3 linked regions of the Homo sapiens genome follow. The protein of the gene in region 3 purifies or fractionates together with the protein of the main gene of each other region. This does not show direct contact. Each region holds a gene or a part of one and is shown on either strand. Other genes may lie near its edges.

Evidence for each region.
Region 1: the proteins of CDC42BPA (region 3) and CEP152 purify together in Homo sapiens (co-immunoprecipitation; one large-scale study listed by IntAct). This does not show direct contact.
Region 2: the proteins of CDC42BPA (region 3) and ARHGEF2 purify together in Homo sapiens (affinity purification with mass spectrometry, with the first as the bait; one large-scale study listed by BioGRID). This does not show direct contact.

What each region holds. Positions count from the first base shown.
Region 1 is NC_000015.10:48,737,965-48,741,617, forward strand, and holds part of CEP152 (centrosomal protein of 152 kDa), read right to left. Parts: coding exon 3,637-3,653; intron 1,325-3,636; coding exon 285-1,324; 3' UTR 1-284. UniProt on the Homo sapiens protein: Necessary for centrosome duplication; the function also seems to involve CEP63, CDK5RAP2 and WDR62 through a stepwise assembled complex at the centrosome that recruits CDK2 required for centriole duplication.
Region 2 is NC_000001.11:155,971,895-155,975,547, forward strand, and holds part of ARHGEF2 (rho guanine nucleotide exchange factor 2), read right to left. Parts: intron 1-3,653. UniProt on the Homo sapiens protein: Activates Rho-GTPases by promoting the exchange of GDP for GTP.
Region 3 is NC_000001.11:227,028,428-227,032,080, forward strand, and holds part of CDC42BPA (serine/threonine-protein kinase MRCK alpha), read right to left. Parts: intron 3,088-3,653; coding exon 2,871-3,087; intron 2,044-2,870; coding exon 1,981-2,043; intron 824-1,980; coding exon 230-823; intron 1-229. UniProt on the Homo sapiens protein: Serine/threonine-protein kinase which is an important downstream effector of CDC42 and plays a role in the regulation of cytoskeleton reorganization and cell migration. Regulates actin cytoskeletal reorganization via phosphorylation of PPP1R12C and MYL9/MLC2.

The sequences.
Region 1 (3,653 bases), on a different chromosome or scaffold from region 3:
TAAGTTAACACTGCAGAGTGAGTCAATTTATAAGTATAAAAATAGATGGTTTAGAAACCAAAAATAAGCACCACACAAAAGCAGATTATACATACACCATCAGGCCTTTGGAATATTAAGGCAACATAAATATCTCAAGCAATTTTAGAAGAATGCTTTACTTATATAACAGATGTTATTAAAACATCTCAAAAGAGGCAGGGCTCACAATTTTTTTCAGTATGAGGTCTTCCCTTCCATTTTTGTTAATATATTAATGATTCTTCTTAAATACTGTACCATAATTAGTCTAGATTAACAAATGGGCTATCAAAGCCACTATCTTGTTGGCTAGATAGCGGAACAATTAATTTTCTTGAAGGCTGCTGACACACTGAAGATGGTAATGTACTGCTCAGTTTTTTGAAATCTGACTTTAATCTATCAGCCTTATGACGAGATGGGTGTCCACAATTCACACTGATCTTTCCTGGCTCCAAATACGTGGTTTCTTCTGACAGGTATGGAGTTTGATAACGCTGACATTTCATTGTTTGACAAATCATATTACTTTCCTCTGTATCTGAAAGATAACCGGATGGTGAAAACTGTTTGGATTTAACAGATTCACTTGGTATTTCCAAAGTTCCTTGTGGCCTACCATGTACAAATGATGCTTCACGACTGTCAAAGGATAAGGTTGCACTGCTGGAAGGCCAGCCCAAGCAGTCACTAAGGTCCCCTCCATCTTTTACTGGAGGTTCCTGAACATCCAAACCTTGACTTTTCTCAGATGCAGCATTTTCACTTTCCATTAGTGGATTGCATTTATATACTTTTAAACCAAGTCTTTCATTAGAATCGCGAAAGGTTATATGCATGCATCCTGATTCAGAAGGACCAGGGGTACATCTAGGTGAGGGTTTATTTCCTAAGGTTCCAAGAAAGGGGTATGCAGCTGAATGCGGAAGTGATTCAGAACCATTATCACTGAGTAGGTCTTTCTTCTTGTGCAAACCAAAGCCTCCTTCACCTTCACAAGGAACAAACTCAGGAGAAACATTCCTTGGCAAACTGTTTAGGTGCTTGCAACTACCATCCCCAAACTGGAATTCCAAATGTGTCTCTTTGGATCCCACATGCTTTATGCTCTGATGCTCTGAGTTCTCTAACAGCCTTTGTAAGTTACAAGCTGCCCTCCTCTTGGGAGCTTGTTCGCACAGAGTTCTGGTGATGGTGTTTACACTATTTGATTTGCTTTCAATACAACATGGTATTTTCTGATTCACATCATTTCTTTTTGATTTTTTAACTGCAATCAGCATCTCTGAAGTTAGGGGCAGTGCTATTATGTGCAAGGAAACACGAAATTAAGAGAAAATTAATATTTAAAGGGAAGATTCATCCTTGAACAAAAAAATAAAAAAAATTAAAAATAAGAAAAAATTTATGTTTTTATACTGTATTCCCAAAGAATGCTTATATACTGTAATAATTCTTAAAGAAAATACATCAATGCTGGACATTTAAAAATATTCTTTTACATATATCCACTAGATAAAGCTTGGTAATTTTGTTACTAAGATCTGATATATAATTATTATTGCTATCCATCTGACCTATCATTTTCTGCAATAGATGTTATAGCAATTTCAAGATCCAGCCACAATGTTTTCAATCCTGCCCTGATTCTGATGTTAAGAATGGAGTTTCTGACAAGTTCGCTCAAAGAACCCCACCCACCCAATACCTACACATACACTTCTAGAATAGCTAAATAGACTTTCTGATTTAATTACCTAAGACACTAAATCTGATCAAAGACAAAGCAGCCACATAGCATGAAATTAGAGGCATTGTATCTCAGAGTAGCAAGCCCTAGAGTCCATGAAAAGGATTTGCTTCTCTACTGGGGACATTATTTGCACACTGTTGCCCCAGATCTAGAAAATTATTTTCTTGTTATATGTTACTGCCTTTTCATACCTAAGGTTCACATCACCATTCCAAAATTTATACAAATAATCTTTGGCTTGTACATGAGGAATGTTTACCAACATCAGACTCATGGACCCCTGAACAATCTCAGCTTCAAGTTTTCCAGAGGTTCAAGAACCCCATTTCCCCACTGATATGTTAAAAATCTCTCAGTGTGATTGGGAATTTACCAGTCTTTTTCATGTATTTCTATCAGCTCTTGCTTTATATAAAGCTGTATGATCTACAGAAAGAAAACAATTACAGTTTCTTGGGAGACTATTCCATTATCATTATGAACTATCAGCTTTGTCCCTTTTAATGCTAACTCTAATTTATCTAATCTTTTATTTACCTCTATAATTTATCTAATATCAACACTGCATTTGCTTGGTATATCATTCTCCATCCCCTGATTTTTAATTTTAGATGTTCTTCTTGTAAAAATAGCAAATTTCCACATTTTTAAAAACCCTATTTGAAAGTTGTGGTCTTTTAATAACTTATATGAGTTTAACCTACTTATATTTAGTGTGATTGTTGATGTTTCAAACTACTATTATGTCCTACTTACCCACGCTCTCTAGGTTTTTTTCCTCTTTCCTGATTTTGTTAGATTGAAAATGTTTTTTTCCAAGTTTTTCCTTTACCAGTTTTAAAGTTATACGTTCTATGTTTTTGTTGGTTACTCTTACTTTTTTTTTTTTTTTTTTTTTTTTTTTTGAGACAGGGTCTGCTCTGTTTCCCAGGCTGGAGTGCAGTGGTGCGATCACAGCTCACTGCAGCCTTGACCTCCCGGACTCAAGTGATCCTCCCATCTCAGCCTCCCAAGGCAAGTCGGCTCCCAGTTCCTGCTTGATATGGCTAGCCACCTGGAGCACTGCCCTGCTCCCAGATTCTTTGTTCCTGTTGTTGTTGCCCAGCTCAATATTGAGGTTGGGGAAAGGAGGGGAGAAGAAGAAATAAAGAGAGGATTAACCCCACCTGGTTGCTGTTGGTTTAGAACACCAACTAATTACCCCATTCATATCCCCTAGGCCCTCTATTTCTCCTGGAACATATCACCCTCATATGTGGAACAGTTTTGATATTGCTCCTAATTGCAATAGTCATCTCCCGGTGGTTTTGAACTGAGGTTTCCATCTTCCATCCTATACTGTCTTCTTTCTCTCAGGGATTTCTTGTAGCTTCTGGTCTATCCACTGCAAACTTTTTTTTTTTTTTTTTGAGACAGGGCCTCACTCTGTCACCCAGGCTGGAGTACAGTGGCACAATCATAGCTTACTGCAACCTCAAATTCCTGGGATCAAGGGATCCTCCCACCTCAGCCTCCCAAAGTGCTGGGATTACAGGTGTGAGCCATGATGCCTGGCCCACTGCAACTTTTTAAAACCCACTTATAATTTCTTCTTTTTCTCATTCTTTATTTGCTGTTTAAAATCTTTTCTATCATTTCGAGGGATGGAAGCAGCAATAGGAAACTGATGGGCATGCTCAGTCTGCCTACTTAAATTGGAAACTGTGTACTCTTTTTGCGTAAACTTCTAGTTTAAGTAAAACATACAAAACTTCACAAATTAACTCTCACTCCTTACCTTCCCTGCCTTCTTCATACTGAAAATATTAAATAGCTAAAGAAGAAAAGATAGAAAAACCATTTGGCGACTCACTTTGACATACCTGACTGTGTAGTTTTG
Region 2 (3,653 bases), about 71 Mb from region 3:
ATATATACATATATATATATACACACATAAGTAAAAGCAAGCAAGCTGAAAATAGTATTAAAAAAAACAACATGGCTGGACCAGGGTCACTCCAGAATGGGCAGTGCTGCAGCTCTGCCCCAGTGCTGCTACGAGTACTCTCTTCCACACCTGACCTCTGTCCTTTGCCCTCCACCCTCCCCCTGTGGCATCCACAAACACTCATCTGTCTGACCAGCTCAGATGGAGTGGCAAAGGGAGGGAGAAGACTGGGGCAGCCAGAGAACAGGGTCTCTAGTGGCCCTTCCTCTCTCTGGCATCAATGCTCCACAGACAGCCCTGGTACTCTGGGCCCTGCCTCCTCCACCTCCCAACACTCACCCTCTCTCGAAGTGACCCCTGCTCTAGGTGGGCCAGCAGCGGGCAGCAGCCACAGCAGCAGCACATCCCAGCATGGGCACTGCCCAGCAGCAAGCGACCCTGGCACTGCCTAGTGCTATTGTCCCGGAGGTTGCCTGTGCCCGCCCCAGGGCTCAGGCTTCTGAGGATGGAAGGACATAGGGCCTGCTTACCAGGGGTGCCTGCTCCAGAGGTGGAGTGAGTGGGCTTGTTTGGTTCTTTGTCCTACTCTTTTCCAGGTATTCTTAAGATAATCACATTGGTCTCCCATTTACCCACGCCCAAGTAGGACAGCCCTTTACCTCCAAGACCCAACCTATGCACCAAGAAAAAGGGCCCATTACTCCACAATCCATAACACCCACCCCAGTGCTCAGAGGCCCTTCCTGCTTGGTTCAGTCCTTTGCTCTCCAGCATCTAGATACTTTTTTTTTTCTTTTTTTTTTTGAGACAGGGTCTCACTCTGTTGCCTGGACTGGAGTACATTGGCATGATCATGGCTCACCGCAGCCTTGACCTCCCGGGCTCAAGTGATCCTTCCACCTCAGCCCTCCAAATAGCTGGGACCACAGGCATGCATCATGATGCTCACCTAATTTTTAAATTTTTTTTGTAGAGACAGCGTCTTGCTATGTTGCCCAGGCTGGTCTCGAACTCCTAGGATCAAGTGATCCTCCTGCCCCAGCCTCCCCAAAGTGCTAGAATTATAGGTGTGAGCCACCACGCTCAGACCTAGAGTCATTCTGTCTCTTTCTCACAAATCCCATGGGAAGTTCTTCTTGCTACACACCTTCATCCACACTACTGCTACATCAAGGATAAATAAAGAATATGAAAGCCCTTAGCACAATACCTGGTATACAATAGGCACCCAATACATGTCTCAAAATGAAAGAAAAGGAAGGAAGCAAAGAAGCAAGGAAGGATGTATGGACACCAAGACATGGGGTCTCAGTAGCACCCTGGCCCCTATTCTGGAAACCCTCTTCCTTCCTTATCAGAGCTTTAGAACCTTCTGTCTCTTCTTGTTTCTCTTTTCTCCCTCCTCCTGAAGGGCTCTAAGCCATTCTCTCCTATTTCCTTTGAGTTTAGACCCTGAGGGTTTCCTCTGGAAGTCAGAAGACCAACCCCAAACTTCCTTCCACTGTCATCCCAGATCTCAGTCACTTTTGGGAAAGAAAGACAGGGCCAGGCCGAGCGCAGTGGCTCATGCCTATAATCCTAACACTTTGAGAGGCCGAGGCGGGCAGATCACTTGAGATCAGGAGTTTGAGACCAGCCTGGCCAACATGGCAAAACCCCATCTCTACTAAAAATACAAAAATTGGCCGGGTATGGTGGTGGGCACCTGTAATCCCAACTACTCAGGAGGCTGAGGCAGGAGAATTGCTTGAACGCAGGAGGTGGAGGTTGCAGTGAGCCAAGATCATGCCACTGCACTCCAGCCTGGGTGACAGAGCGAGACTCTGTCTCAAAAAAAAAAAAAGAAAAGAAAAAAGAAAGAAAGATGGGAGCAATGGCAGAGGGCATTGTGGATCTCTACTGAAAAGCTCAAAGGCAAACACAGTCTCCCCTCTTCTCTCCACTTTGTCTCCCAGAATAAGGGATGAGGAAACAGTGACGTACATGGAGGGGAAGGCAATGCCAAGGCTAGGACTTTGGCTTCCTGGGCTCCCAGCAGGCAGCAAGGCCAGGCAGATCCACCCAGGCGAGGTAGAGCTTCTCCAAGCAAGCCCTAAGCTCTCATCTGACTTTTTTTTTTTTAATAATAGATTTTAAAAACTTAATGTTTTTGTAGAGATGAGGTCTCACTATGTTGCCCAGGCTTGTCTCAAATTCCTGAGCTCATGCGATCCAGCTGCCTTGGTCTTCCAAAATGCTAGGATTACAGGTGCGAGCCACTGTGCCCAGCTCTCTCAGCTGCCTTTGCTTCTCTCTCAGGTATGTCCAAATCAAGACTTCTGGGAGAGTCACAGAGTACTCAGAATCACCTCTCCTCCAGCTGTACCTGGCAGCAGCCCCTTCCCCAAGATGGTGACACCTCTGTCCACACCCTCTGTAATAGTGACCGGAGAGCCTGTGGAGCATTCCACCAGGATTCGAGTCACCTGTGGCTCAGCCCCTGTACAGCAGAGGCGCCGTTGGCTATGAAGGGCACTGAGTCCTGGAGGAGGAGCTATAGGGCTGGGAAATGAAGAGGTGAGGGATTGCTGGGGGTGGGACTGAGAAGAGGGCTTGGGGTGGTCTCAGCCGGGCCCTGCTCCTTTATGAGCTTCCAGGGACAAGATGAAGACAGGAGGCAGAGGGGAAGGCAGCCAAGTGGAAACACTAATGCCAAAGCCAGAAACAACACAGAAAGACATCACTGCACACACAAAGGCACTTAATAAATGCTTGCTTAGTGAATGAAGATGAGACACTGGCAATGGGAGTGGGTACGGGTGAAACGGAAGAGGATTGCTAAGGGCCACAAGGAATAAATCAGGTTAGGGACCCTGAGACCCAAGCATCCTGGAACCCAGCCTGCCCCCTACGCGGCCACACCTGTCAGGCCAGGAGAGAGAGACAAGCAGAAAGAGAGGGGGGGTAAGCGATGCAAACAGACAGGCATTTGTGCAAGTGAACAATAGCTGTGCCAGGACTCCCTGCCCTCCTGGCACAAGGCAGGCCGGCTGGGTTGGGAGGGGGGCAGCTGCTGCCTGCAACCCCACCCCCACCCTCTCCCAAAGAGACATAAACAAACCCGGAAGGGTCCAGCCAGCTCCTCTCAGCCTTTTCTCTTACCAGCTTCAGAAATCCTAACCAATCCGCTCACTCAGCTCCTAGATGATATTTCCAACCAGAAACTGAAGCTAAGGATGAAGCTACTTCCTCGTGGCCAGAGAGCACGAACCCCCTACTTTGCTGACCACTGTTCAAAACAGTAGCCCAGAGCATCTGGGTACAGAATAGGAGGGCAGGCAGGCAGACAGACACACTGACACACCAGCACACCAGTAACATGCACACAGGGGATGCACACATTCACATCTGTCCCCTCCTTGATTCCAAGGTCAAATTCCACAGCCAGAGTGGCTAAGATCAGACCCCACTGTAACTCCTCTGGTCGGCCTCAGTAGGTCCTTCTCTAGGCCCCATCTAACCTCCTGCAAGTCACTCAGTGACTTCCCTAAGCTTTAGACTCCCTTCCCCTATCCTCACTTCTCCCCTCCCCCTCAACTCTCTCCCTAACCTCCACGACCCCTAGAATTTTTGTCTATGTCCCCAGAAGCCTC
Region 3 (3,653 bases):
CAGAAAGATGTTTTGTTTAAATTACGTGCATGCTAATGCTGGCCCTGTTTGCCCAGGCCTAACTACATATGGTTTTTACATCAACAACATAATCAATACTGAGGAAAAGCATTAAGAATGACTTTTTTAAAAAACTGTTATCAACAATGACAACATTTGGGAGACGAAGTAGAAGGGAAAAGGAAGAAGAGATATAAAGATAAGACAGCCGTAAGAAAGAGAATCTTACAACAAGAGGAAGGATTTGCTGGCCACATCAATTCCTGTTGTCTAGATCTTCGGCCCTGGCAGTCAGTGTATATCCCAATGCTGTTAAAACACAGCAGATATTCTTTACTGGAGATCTCAACTGCGCAGATAGCATCCATTGGTTGATGTGCAATAAATGATAGTGTATGGTCATTTGAATGGAGCATACTGTATGGATTTCCTTCTCCATTCAAGGGGTATCTTAGAAATCCTGACTGGAATCCCACACAGAGTTGTTCACTGAAGATTGCCATCCACTGGACATTATATGGGACTTGAATTTCTTTAAATTTTCTGTGACGGGTCTTGCTCTGAAATAGTTCATAACAGAGGACCTGCCTTTTCATAGCCACACACAGGCATGTGAGAGCTCCATGGCGCACCTTTCCAGAAGTTACGGTTTGACACCCTTTAGTTTCTGACAGCTTGTAAAAATCGGTCTCTCGCCCATCCAATGCTGACATAGGAAAAAGTCGTACATGACGATTTCGTCCTGAGATCACAGCAACAAGCTGATCATTTGGAATGAGTTCAATCTGATGAATCTTCTTATTGTCACCAACTCTAATAATTTCTAAACACAGAAAGAATAATAAATCAAAATATAGTTTTATTGATTAATCATATCCCAATTATACTCAAAAGGATGTAAGTCAACTTACAGATGCACATACGGAAGAATAAGACATCAGAAGTCACAGGAAAAAAAGATTATCCAACCCATCATAAGATAATTTAACTCACCTATAGTACGTATTAAATTTGAGTCCTGAGATTTCTGGCAGCCAAGGCAAACCCCAAAGGATTCTTGTGTAAAAGTATGCCAAATCTTCAAGGAAACTTTTCTACTGGCACTAAATTCTAGGGAACGTCACCATAGGATTCCCATTTTTAAAAACAGAGAACTTATTTTTCAGAAGTTTTTATATGGCTAACAATGCATTGTTTTCCCATGATCTAAGTTGACATAAAGATAAAACTTAGAATACTGTATTTATGAATACCAAGTTATATTGGTTTCTCTTTATTTCACCCAGCATTTAGTTTTTCCCTAGAAGAAAAACCTCCAAACAAACACATTTTAATAGCTGTTGCCTCTTCTGGTACTAATAGAACAATGTGAAAATCAAGTTGTATATATTTTTTTTCATGTTCCATCTTTAGAAATGCAATCTGGGCTGGGCGCAGTGGCTCATGCTTATAATCTCAGCACTTTGGGAGGCCAAGGCGGGTGGATCACCTGAGGTTGGGAGTTCGAGACCAACCTGGCCAACATGGAGAAACCTCATCTCTACTAAAAATACAAAATTAGCCGGGCGTGGTGGTGCATGCCTGTAATCCCAGCTACTGGGAGGCTGAGGCAGGAGAATCTCTTGAACCCAGGAGGCGGAGGCTGCAATGAGCCGAGTTCGTGCCACTGCACTCCAGCCTGGGCAGCAAGAGTGAAACTCTGTCTCCAAAAAAAAAAAAAGAAATGCAATCTGAGTTCGTACAGAACTGTTAAATAAAATGATACAAGAAAGACAATACATATTTGAAGTTTTAAACCTCAGGGGGATTATAGAAATTTAAAAATAATCTTTTAATTTATAAACGTCAAATTAGGTCTGGAAAATTTTAGTCGCAGGATAAATAAGAGCAAATCCTGCTCTTTGTAGAATTTAGAATCTACAGTTTAAATTTTTTTAACACGATTTAAAATTACTCCAAAAAAAAAAAGTTTTCTCTTACCATCTTTGGTGACATGTACAACAAATAACCCTTCTTCGTTTCCCAAAGCAATTCTTTCATGATCTATGTAAGACATGAATGTGAAAGATTTTTATTAGGAAAAAAACCATGTAATGCTAATAAACCAGATGATAAGAACATTTGGTGCAAAAAATGGAAATAAAATGAATTACAATAACAGTTTACACTATTTCCTTTCAGATTATACTGGTAAATCTCTCATGTCTTCTAAAATAGAACAATTATTAAAGAATAATCCATATCAATACTTACAAAAAGAAGTAAATGTTTAATAAATGATGAAACAAAATGAAAAACCTAAGTTGTTCTACACTTATTGTTTTGGGAGGTAAAAATTGTGAATGGCATTTGAACCATACTCATTGAACTTTTCAGTATTTATGGAAAGTAACAAAAGAGTTAGATGCATACACAGGAATACAGCAAAAATTTAAACCTCCAGACACAGAAACTGCCATTTGTTAAGGGGATTTCTTTCTTATGCAGGGCACTCTGTGTTATGTATTCCATCTTATTTAAACTTCCCAATAACCTCAGCAAGGTAATTACCATCTGTATTTTATATATTAAACTCTAAGAAACTAACTTGTTCTAAATCACACAAGCAGAAAATAGATTAGTAGGCTAATGCTTAGCACTGTTGTTTTTTCAGGAAAAAAAAGGCACTTTGAAAGTGTATTTATACTCCTGTTTACTGAAAAACAAAGATCTGATATAGGTCTCATTCATTCAGTAAACATGTACTGAGCATTTATGATATGATGCACAGTATGTTGGACACTGGGGATTCCTAGATGAAAGCCAATCCCTGTTCTCAAGGTAGATTAGTAAACAATGATAATAATATGATAAATGTTATAAATTCATACCTATGATTGCGGCTGCCTGGGTTGTTTTAATGAGGGGTAGAGTGCTGTCATAAGCCTCTTTGGGAACATAGACTGAGCGGTCTCTGAATTTGTTTTTCTTCAAAATCTTGTGCAATTCACTCAGCACTCCCACCCACTTATTCTTCTCATTCTCAGTGTCTGCTAGCATCAGGATTGAACATTTGTTATTAGATGCTGAGAGCTGGGAAGCTGTGACCTAGAACAATTTAATCAATATTCATGATATTAGAAAACAGACACCCTTTATGCTAGTTTCATGATTATGTTAGTTTGCTTAGCACTCACCAATAAAATAAGCATTCATTAAATGATACCATTACTGGAGTTCAGCTATTCCTAATCAGAATAACTACCTTTAGCACTAGAATACATGACAAAGCAAAGGTGGCAGACACCATTTGAAATGTTAGTATCATTTTCATTTTCCTTCTGTAAAAGTGCCAGAACACTATCACTAAAGAGGCATTAAATATATAACAACAACAACAACAACTGACATTTATTGAGTAAATACTGAGCACCAGGTAGATCTAAGCACTTTACAAGTATTAACTCATTTAACTCTGTTAACATCGTCATGATTTAGGATGTACTGTCATTATATCCTTATTTTATATATGAAAAAAATGGTGATGCAAAGAAATTAAATCATTTCTCCAAGGACATACAACTACAAGTCTGGGATCTTGTGCCCATGCTCTTAAGCGCCACACCATACTGACTTGTGACTTGTTTTAAGGTCAGAAGTGCTCAGAAATATAT